2 separate regions of the Homo sapiens genome follow, and region 2 is linked to region 1. The links come from fine-mapping of genetic effects on gene expression. A gene starts in region 1. The other region holds a variant in brackets. All regions are shown on one strand. Distances are from middle to middle. Region 1 holds the start of FAM110C (family with sequence similarity 110 member C). Region 2 has its middle 61 kb from the start of FAM110C.

Evidence for each region. PIP is the estimated chance that this variant, and not a neighbour inherited with it, causes the effect.
Region 2: its variant is fine-mapped to the expression of FAM110C in whole blood (INTERVAL, PIP 0.98).

Annotation. Positions count from the first base shown.
Region 1 is chr2:43,118-48,492 of GRCh38, forward strand. It overlaps FAM110C (family with sequence similarity 110 member C), which reads right to left and starts at 3,388. Exons shown (of 2, transcript NM_001077710.3): 1 at 2,323-3,388. The coding sequence starts at 3,268.
Region 2 is chr2:105,231-110,605 of GRCh38, forward strand. No RefSeq gene overlaps it. Among named protein-coding and RNA genes, the nearest start is that of FAM110C, 61 kb to the left of the region's middle. The variant G/C (reference allele first, on the strand shown) is at 2,912.

The DNA of each region.
Region 1 (5,375 bases):
TCTGTTCTCCTCATACACCCCACCCCTGGTAGCCGGGCAGTAAGTCTCTGCATTGCAGTTTCAAAGAGGCCTGTGCTGTTTTGGGTCTAGGGAAGTACATTAGTAAAGAAAATCTTTATAGTGCTGGTGACTGCCAATTCCATATAAAAACTGGGGTAGCTTCTGTGGGACTGTACCCCTGCTCTGAGAAATAATGTGAAACTTCTCAGAAGACAGTTGCCATTGTCTCCAGTCTGGAACAAACGGGATTCAGGTGGAGGGAGACATGAGGGGAGGAAGAAGCCCATGAGCCTTTTTCCTGCCTCCATCCTTAGTGCCTTCCCAAACCTGCTCTCACTTTCCCTCTTCCTTCAACTATTTCTCTTTGTCATAAAAGTGAAAGTTCTCACAAGCTAACTAAACTTCTTATATTTTTCATAGGTCCAAGCCTAAAAGGTCTTTAGGATTTAGTCTATGAAGTCAACTAAATTCTCATTCAGGTCACTCTTTTGACATTGGCTAATTCGAGATGGGAACCAGCCTGGGTCTGGAGGGATCAGAGCAGGCTGCTTTTATTTTTATGTTGTCAGGTTTTACTTTGGTTTCATTTGTATGCCACATTATTACCTCCCCACTATTTATACCACCAAGTCTACCTACTGCCTGCACATGCTATGGCTACCTGGAGGGAGCTTATTCATAAATTTACTTCTCACGTACTTCAATAGACAACTTTTTTTTGTTTGTTTTCCATTTCTGGGTTTCAGTCATGCAACACAGATTATTACTACACAGACTAGAAAATGTAGAGGTTGAAAACCATCCGCCTATCTCCCTTCTTTTTATGGACAAAGGACGCCTGGTCTATAGTGCAGGAATCATTTGCTAACATAAGACAGGCCCTTAATTCTGGTTTAGTGCTCTATCCACCAGACACTGTCCCTCCACGGACCTGGCCACTCTCCAAAGCTCCTGCCCTACACATGGTGCCATCATGGAAATACCCTTGCCAGCATTCATTCATCTCAGATCCAAAAGACAATTTGTGAAAACTACAAATTAATGTTTGTTTGCTTTTTAGAACTTTGCCTATATATATTTGTTGGGAACTTAGGCTAGTGGAAAACACAAATCTTCTATAAATTATAAGGAAGAACTTAAGTCCTGAGCCTTCTGAGTTCAAGAAAAAGAATGAATTATCTTCTTCTCATTAATTTTCATGTCTGTACTAAAGTCATAGCCAGAGAAATTATTGGAGATATTTTTAGCTGTCAAACATAGGTGAGCCCTGTGCAAACATCTCTTGGGCAGCCTCCCCCAAACTCTACAGGCTGCCATGCATCTTCACTTAGTTTATCACAATGGCAGAAAATAATTTCATCTCATGATTTTTAAAATTTACTTATAGCAAGTTGTCATTGAAGGGTAAGAGGAAAAAAAAGATGTCGCAAAGTTTAAATTGTTCGTTCTCAAAGACAGCCCTGAAAAGGTTCTTTCTCTTCACTACTTTCCAAGACGCCCATAGGGAAGAGCAGGTAACAGTGAAGACCAGCACTCCTCAGTTCCCCAGTGAAAAGCAAAAAGAGCTCGAGGTCAATCCGGCACTACTGGTTGTCCAAAGGGAGGTTACTTCCTGTAGTGTCATCAGAGGCAAATAAACTATAGACTCTAGTTACAATCTAGTCCAATTTCCCCAGTTTAAAAACCTGAAGCTCTCAAAACAATTTAAATAAAATTTAGCCAAATAAAGATCTTTGTTGCTAAGTGAATGCCAAAGTGCTACAAGATCCTGTGGAGAAGTTCTCACCACTTCAGCACAGGCCTCCAGGAAAGTGCAGGGAGTCTTCCTTTCTGTTCCAGTAACACAGCAGCGCCTACCTAGGGCTGCAGGTGGACTGGTCAGCTCCAATCAAACATCAGGACCGCCCACAGCACAGGTCAATGAACTCAGGAACTAGGGCTCTCAAGCTGTTTTCAGCTCAGGAAAGAATACTAGGGGTGTAAAACTGCTTTCTGGCAGCATTTTGGATTTCTCCTGTTTTCACAATAATAAGCCAAATGGGACATATTAATTTGCAGAATTGCCTTTCCAGGCAGCCAGACGCAGCAGACTCCTAAGGGCCTGGACCAGCAGGTGCCTGGATTGGTACCTTCTGCTCTTCAGCAGCGGGGGCTCAACTCACAAGCCTCTGCGTCAGTCTCTTGGGTCCCTTTCACACTGTAGCTCAAAATCGCACTCAATTCTAAGCAGCTGTAACTGGCCATCGCCCAGCTCGGTCACACTCACCAAGATTCACAGCCCCGCACACGGCCAGCCCCGCCCCCAGCCTTCTGGGCACACACCTCGGGTCCGGCTCTGCTCCTGGCTGGGGGTCTCCTTGGCCTTCTTACAGGTGTACAGCCACTTGATGATGCGGGCGTTCCTCTCGATGACCGAAGTGGTGCTGGGCACCTGCTCTATCAGCTCCTCCTCCTGCAGCCCCTCGTCGTCGCCGCCGCTGTGCCGGGAGAAGCCGCTGCCGGAGGTGGCGACGCTCACGCTGCGCACCTTGAGGGTCACACAGTCCGACCCCGCGGTGAAGTTCTCCCTCCCCAGGGCCTCCACCACCTCGGGGTCCAGGCCGCAGTACTGGAAGAAGGTGTCAGACTCGGCCAAGGCAGCGGAATAGCGGGAGCTGAGGTCCGACTGTGAGCGCTGCAGCCCCCGACGCCTCACCACCCGCGGCTCTGGCCCAGGGGGCGCGGCCGGGACACTGGAGGGCGCCGCGGACCGCGCGGCTGGGGCTGGGGTCTCGGGGATTGCGGGGTCCGCCGCGGGGCCAGGAGTGGTCGGGACCGTCTCCGGGTTCCCGGCCTTGCCCTCGTCTCCCGTCCGGGGCACCGGCGCCTTGTCCTTACCCGGCCCCTGGAAGAGCTTCTTCACCAGGCTTGCCCTGGGGCCGTCGGCGCCCGATCCTCGCACGAATTCGCATTTCTGCCGGTAGATGATCAGCGAGTCCGGTCTCAACGGCTTCCGCGCAATAGCCCTGCGCGCCACCGGGGCCGGGGCGCGGGCCGGGGGCCCAGGGTCGTTCCCCGGGCACTTGATCGCCCCCGGGCCGCTGCCCTCGGAAGCGACGCCCCGGCCAGTCCCCGGCCGACCCCGCACATACTTGGCGCGATCCGCCGCCAGCCTCTCCACTGCGCTCCTGCGCGCCGGCCGCGCGGCGTCGGGGTCCCGGGTAGCCGCGGGGTCCCGGGGAAGGAGCCGCTCGTTCGGGGGCGCGCTCAGGGCCGCCAGGGCGCGCATCTTCGCGGGGAATGGACCGACCGGGGTTCCGGGTCCAGCGGAGACGCGCTCGAGTGGTAGAGCCAGTCAGTCCCAGGGCCGGTTCCGAAGTCCGCGCCGGGTGGGGAACGGCGCCCCAGTGCCCAGCTGCCCAGGCCCGGGGTTGGGGAGAACCGGAGTCTGCACCGATTGGCGAAACTCCCCAGTTCCCGCCCCTCCCGACCTCATCGCCCACACCGACTGGCACCGCCCCCGCCCCCGCCCGGTGCCCCGGCCCTGGCCGCGTCCCCGCATCCCCGCTCGTCCCCGCCCGTCCCCGCCTCCTCACTCCCGCCCGGGCCCGCCTCCCTGGCCGCTCTCCGGGTGCCAGCGCCCGCCCTCACCTCGCGTCCGGGGTCCCGGCCCTCACCTCCTGCCCGGTGCCGTCCCCGCCCCCCCTCACCTTCCGGCGGCGCTGCCAACCGCCTGGAGGACGCTGGGGCGAGCAGGCTCTGAACCCCCACTCGCTCAGCCCCAGATCCCCGAGGTCACTGCTGGACGCAGGCATTTCCGGGGAGGGGGAGCAGAGGGGACGTCCCCCCACCTCCCCCGGGCAGGTGCCTCACATCCTTTGAATTCTTAAAGTGACCTCATCGTGTTTGGAAACTTGACTGTTTAATTTTGTCTACCTGAGCTCATATTCTTATTAACAGAAAGGAATAGGACATAAGAGGAAAGAACACGCAGCGCACGCCAGGATCAGCCTACGTGTTGGGTGGCAAGAACGCAGGGCCTCGGATTGGGTCCGACTCGGTCGCTGGCCGGCAGCGGGCGTGGCCGGGCCCGAGGACCGAGCTAGGACTCTCAGTGGGGCAGGCTGGGGCCCCAGGCGCGGCTCAGTGGATTTGGAAGAAGCCCAGCCAAGTGTCCAGAATCATTGCTATTTTTACGGTAACCGAGGCAACGGGGAAACCACGAGTTCACCAGGCAGTGGATCAGCCTAGGAATGCTAAGAGTCTAAGATAAAATACTTCCCAAACTCCATTATTTCAAAAATTTGGACAAAATACTAAAGTTATCTCTCAGACATGTGAAATGTTCACGTTATCGCGTTGTGAAGACAACTCCGTAACAGGCTGTGCTTTCAGCCTTGTGGTTGAACGCTCCGAGCAGCAGCAGCCCGGAAGGCAGGGAGGGCGACAGGTGCAGATGGGCCCCCAAAGTGGGCACGAACACCTCACCAACGAGGAAGAGGACCGCAGCAGGGTGGTGCTGAGTGGGCCTTGGGGGTCTTTAATCTCCTTGAGCCCCAGCGAAGCAAAATTTCATAGGGATAGTAGCACAACAATAAATCGCCTCCTGAAAGCCAGACCGCCCAGACAGCCTCGTTGGAACATGTAAGACTCATAGGAAAAGGAGTCTAGGCCAATAAAGTAGAGAGTGGGAGAAGAGAAGGAAGGATGCGGGGGTGGGGAGTGAAAGAGAGGGACAGAGATGGAGAAAGGGGGAGCTCCTGGGTTGCCACAGATGGTTTCCTACAGGATGCGGGAGGATGGGGCCTTGAGGTCTAAAGTCCAGCCTGCTCTCTGCTTGGCAAGCCTGTTCCCTAAGTCAGAGGAAAAAACCTTTTTAATTGTGTAGCCCAAAGTGTCTTCTTTTCCTAATTTGCACTACTTCATGGGCAACAGCAGCACTTCTAAGACAGAGAACTGCAAAGTACAGGACCTCTGGAATTTGACCCTGGGTCCACAATTTACCTTTGGACAGGTAACAAACGTTCCAGGTTGTTTTGTCACCTGTAAAAATTTCTGTTTTAAATTTACAAGAAAAGACAATCCCATTAAAAAGCGGACAAAGGACATGAACAGACACTTCTCAAAGGAAGACATTTATGTGGCCAACAAACATATGAAAAAAGCTCAACATCATAGATCATTAGAGAGATGCAAATCAAAGCCAATGAAATACCATCTCACGCAAGTCAGAATGGCTGTTATAAAAAGTCAAGAAACAACAGATGCTAGAGAGGCTGCAGACAAATAGGAACGTTTTCACACATTGATGGGAATGTAAATTAGTTCAACTACTGTGGAAGACAGTGTGACAATTACTCAAAGACCTAGAACCAGAAATATCATTTGACCCAGCA
Region 2 (5,375 bases), 62 kb after region 1:
TATCTTTAGTCTCTATTTCATTTAATTCCGCTCAATTTTATTATTTCTCTTCTTCTAATTTTTGGTTTGGTTTGCTCTTGCTTTTTGAGTTCCTTGAGGTGAATTGTTAGATTGTTAATTTGTAATATTTCTCCTTTTTTGATATAAGAATTTATTGATATAAATGTCCCTTTTAACATTACTTTTCCTTTATCCAACAAGGTTTGCTATGTTGTATTTTCACTTTCATTTGTTTCAAAACATGTTTGATTTTCATCTGAATTTCTTCACTGACCCAATAGCCGTTCAGGAACATGTTGTTGAATTTCCATGTATTTGTATAGTTTCCAAAGGTCCTCTTGGTATTTATTTCTAGTTTTAGTCTCTTGTGGTCTGAGAAAACACTTGATTTAATTTTGAGTTTTAAAAATTTGTTGAGACTTGTTTTGTGGCCTAGAATATAGTCTATTGTGGAGAAGTTTCCATGTGCTGATGGAAAGAATGTATATTCTGCAGTTGTTAGGTAAAATGTTCTGTAAATGTCTGTTAGGTTCATTTGGTCTAAAGTACAGTTTAAATCCAATGTGTCTTTGTTGATTTTTTTTCTACATACTCTGTCTATTGTTGAGAATGGGATATTGAAGTCTTCCATGATTATTTTATTTCACTCTATCTCTCTCTTTAGATCTAGTAATATTTGCTTTGCAAATTTGGGTGTTCCAGTGTTAAGAACATATATATTTAGAATTGTTATATCTTATTGCTGGATTAATCTCTTTTTCATTATATAATGACCTTCTTTGTCTTTTTTTTTAACTGTTCTACCTTTAAAGTCTGTTTTATCTCATATAAACTTAGCTATTTCTTTTTTTCTCCAAAAAGAATGCTTTATTGAGAAATTACCCATTATTATAATAACGTTAAGGAAAAGATACATCAGTTACACCCATGCAACCTGCCTTCTCACTACATCCCACAGGCCGATTTTAATCTTGGACAAAGGGTACCGAGTGCTGGGGTTCCCCGGCCCCTGCATCTTCATTGTGTGTGGAGTGCCATCCCCAAGAGTGTCTGAAAAGTCCAGAGACATGGTTGTCAGAGGACACATGCTCTACCAAACAGAACACCTTGAACTGAGCAGCCCTTCCCCTCCTGGGAGTCACAGAGACATGTACACGACAGGCAAGCCCTCGTAAACTTAGCTATTTCTACTTGCTTTTGGTTTCCACTTGTGTGGAATATCTTTTTCCATCTCTTTATTTTCAGTCTTTATGTGTCTTTACTGATGAAGTGAGTTTCTTGTAAGCAGCACAAAATTGGATCATGCTTTTTAATCCATTCAGCCTTTTTTTAATCTTTTAAGTAGATAATTTAATTCATTTATGTTCAAGGTTATTATTGATATCTTAGGCTTTGTTTCCATCATATTGCTAATTGTTTTCTGGCTGTTTTATATGTTATTTGTTTCTTTTTTTTCTCTTATTGATTATCGTCATGGTTTGGTGGATATCTGTACTGGTACCATTTGAGTCTTTTCTCTTCCTCCTTTGTGTGAATTACTTTACTGGTGAGTTTTATACTTTCATGTGTTTTCATTAGGGTAAATGTTGTTTCACTTTCTAGTTTACAACTCCCTTCAGCATATCTTGTAGGGCCATTCTAGTGGAAACACATTTCCACAGCATTTGCTTGTCTGGGAATGACTTTAGTTCTCCTTCATTTATAAAGGATAATTTGATGAATATAGTATTCTTGACTGGCAGTATTTTTCTTTCAGCACTTGAATATGTCATCCTATTCTCTTTTGATTGAAAAATCCACTGTTATTCTGATGAGGTTTCCGTTATAGGTGACTAGATGTCTTTATCTTCCTGTTTTTAGGATTCACTCTTTATGTTTGATGTTAGATTGTCTGAACATAATGTGCCACGGAGAAGACCTTTTTGCACTTATCTTCCTGGGGATCGCTAAGCCTCCTGCTTCTGAATATCTAAATCTGTTGCTCGACTTGGACAGTTTTATCTATTATTTCATTATATAGGTTTTTAAACCTTTTGTTTGTTTCTTCACCCTCAGGGATCCAAATAATTTGTTATTAATCTTTGTTTTTGAGATGGAGTCTCACTCTATCGCCCAGACTGGAGTGCAGTGGCACATTCTCAGCTCACTGTGACCTCTGCCTACTGGGTTCAAGCTATTTTCATGCCTCAGCCTCCCCAGTAGCTGGAACTACAGGTGTGTGCCACCACTCCTGGATAATTTTTGTATTTTTAGTAGAGACAGGGTTTCACCATGTTGGCCAGGCTGGTCATGAACTCCTGACCTCAGGTGATCCACCCCCTCAGCTTCTCAAAGTGCTGGGATTACAGGCCTGAGCCACCGCGCCCAGCCGGATCCCAATAATTTGTATATTTGTCTTACGTTGTCCCAAATGTCATGAATGCTTTGTTAATTCTTTTGTATTCTCTTTTTTTTTTTAATTGTCTGATTGGAGTATTTAAAAAGATCTGTCTTCAAGTTCTGAGATTCTTTATTCTACCTGATCTAATCTATTGTTGATGCTTTCAAATGTGTTTTTTTTATTTCCTTCAATGAATTCTTCAGTTCCAGAATTTCTATTTGGTTCATTTAAAAATGTCTATTTCTGTGTAAATTTCTCATTTATATTCTGAATTGATTTTCTAATTTCTTTCTATTGTTTTTCAGAATTTTCTTGTATTTTACTGAGTTTCTTTAAAATCATTATTTTGAATTATTTATCTGGGATGTTATGTAAGTTCTTTCTGATTAAGATCTAATGCTGAAAAATTATTGTGTTCCTTTGAAGGAGTCATATTTCCTTGCTTTTCCTGCTTTCTGTGTCCTTATGTTGATATCTGTGCATCTGGCATAATAGTCACCTTCTATTTTTGAATTTGCTTTTATAGGGGAG[G/C]ACTTTTTCCTGAAGATGTATCTCTGGTATCAGTTGGGTAGAGCACTTTGGCTTTGATTCTGGGTGCATCCAGTAGTGTAGTCTCCATATGATTTCTTTGGCTGTAAACAGTGTTAGTAGCATCTGTGATTTCCTTCATGGATTAGAGTGTGGTTATTAATGAAAGCCATAGTGAAGTTGTCCTGGGGATTGAGAGGACACGTGGGCCAGTCTTCAGCCCCAGTGCTGGCAGAGGTGGGCTGAGCATGCCTATCTTTGTGCCAGAGCAGAGTGCACTAGCACTTGTGTTGGAAGTTACTGGCAAGTTGATACTTGGGCCTCCAGGTGGCTTGCTCAGACATGGGTAGTGGCAGTAGTGGCCAGGCAGTTGGACGTGTTTTCAGGCTCCTGGGCACTTGGCGTGGTGTGGTTGATGGCAGTAGCAGTGGTAGGATGATTCCGTGGTTCTCAATCTGTGTGCCTTAATGGTGGTGGTGACTAAAATGGGCTGAGTGGGTCAGTCTCCTGGCCTAAGGTGGCACTTGCAAGTGGGTGCCAGCTGAGGTGGTAGCAGCCAGGAATTTATGCCCAACCTCAAGGCACCAGGAGGAGTACTTAGGTGCCCACAATGGTGGATTGGGTTGGGCAATCCCCAGGACCTCATTGTGTGCTGTCTTGGAGAGAGAGGCAAAGCTGGGCTGGGTGGGCTTGTGATGAAAAATGCACATTCCTCTCATGCTCCAGTTCTGGTGGGGCTTGCCCCTCAACCGTGGCAGAGTAGCCTGAGTCTAGCTCATGTCCTTACCCTGTCTGCAGGAGTCCCCACCCAGCCGATGACCAAATTCCAGCAGCAACTTGTACCTCAGTGGTGTCCCAGTCTGTGTTCCAGTGGCTTTTGCTTCCCAGCACCAGCAGCTACGGCTCATGCCTCATTTGCTTGTTATTCCCAGCTGTGGGAAAGCTTCCAGCCCTCTCCTTAGTTTAAGCAGTGACAGCCATAACACCTCAGATCTGCCACTGCTGGGTCCCACCCAGGACGGCCAGTCTGCCAAAGGCTAGGTTTGAAAATGGCACAATGTTGTAGCCACTTAGGTCTCAGAAAGGGTGCAGGACCCAGCACACCCTCCCTCCTCGGAGCAGGTCTACCTCAGTCTCTTGGCATCTTCCTGTGTTAGTTTCAGGCGTTATGAGGGTTGAGAGGCTCTCCTGTGGCCAGGATTGCACAATTCCATGGTGGGGATGTGGGCCAATGGAAGTCTTTCACTCCCCTTTTCCCTGCATTGGGAAGTCACCTCTTTATACAAATTGTATTATCATATTTCATTTAGTACTGACAGCAAAGTGTCTCCATAAACTAACCTATCAGTCCCATACTTGCCATCTAAGCTGTTTTGACACTTTTTAGGGAATTTTAAAGCAAAACTTCTCCTAACTGTTAACTCCATTTCTTTGTGTTTGGGCACTGTAGGCAGCTTGTGCTACATGTCATTATTGATTCATAGTTCAAATAAATATTAGTCAGTGAGGGCCAAAGGAGAAAGAACTTGATAAAAAGAAGGAAGGGGAAAGGGAGGAAGGAAGGAAGGAAGGAAGGAAGGAACTACTTAGTTCTCTTAATCTAGCATTTTATTTCTGCAAAACAAACATGTTTCTTTTATTATTGTCTTTTGCTTTTGTGTTAACACAGAGTAGTGAAACAAACTAGAAACCTGTGAACTAAACATAAACTGTATATTGTCTGATTTTCTTTGCAAGGTATTTGAATAATGCTGATATGTTTATGGTCCTGTTAAGTAGTGAATTGAACCATCTGGCTATAATTTATTAGGGAAACCATTGTAAGTGTTTGGTTGATGATTTGATTGGCCATATGACATTTTAAGAAGTTTTGTTTTGTTTTCTTTCTTTCTTTATTTTATTTTTTGATTAGAGAGAGTCCACAGAGGAGTAGTATAAACTTTTCAACGTAAAGGTTACTTATGAGCTGACAAAAACCAATGCTAGCTGTGCCAAGATCTAACACAAACAGAAATTCCTACAATCAGAGGAAAGGGTAGAGGCTGTGTTTGTTTAAAAAGCTGATTATACACACATGTAATTGGTGTGTACTTTAAAGTAATGAGTTACATATTGACTGTCAACTTATCCAAATATGGAGAGATTCTCCAATCTTAATCTATCTTGACATTTAGGCTTAGTTTGGAACTGCTAGGAAATTGCAAAACTGATAATTTTTTATTGTTGCCTGAAAGCATATCTGATGTGCTACAGAAATTGGCACCACCTGGTAAAGCAGGCCCAAGATTTAAAATGTTTCTTTTCTGTTCTTAATCATTTATTATGTCTGCATTAACCCAAAGAACCCAATGGTATTAAACACTAAAAAATAAAAATAAAAAATTAATTCCCTCAGTCAAAGACAGGTTTTCAAATTGTTAACTGTTTAAATTTATATGGTAAAAACATCTAGATATCTGATTTTAAA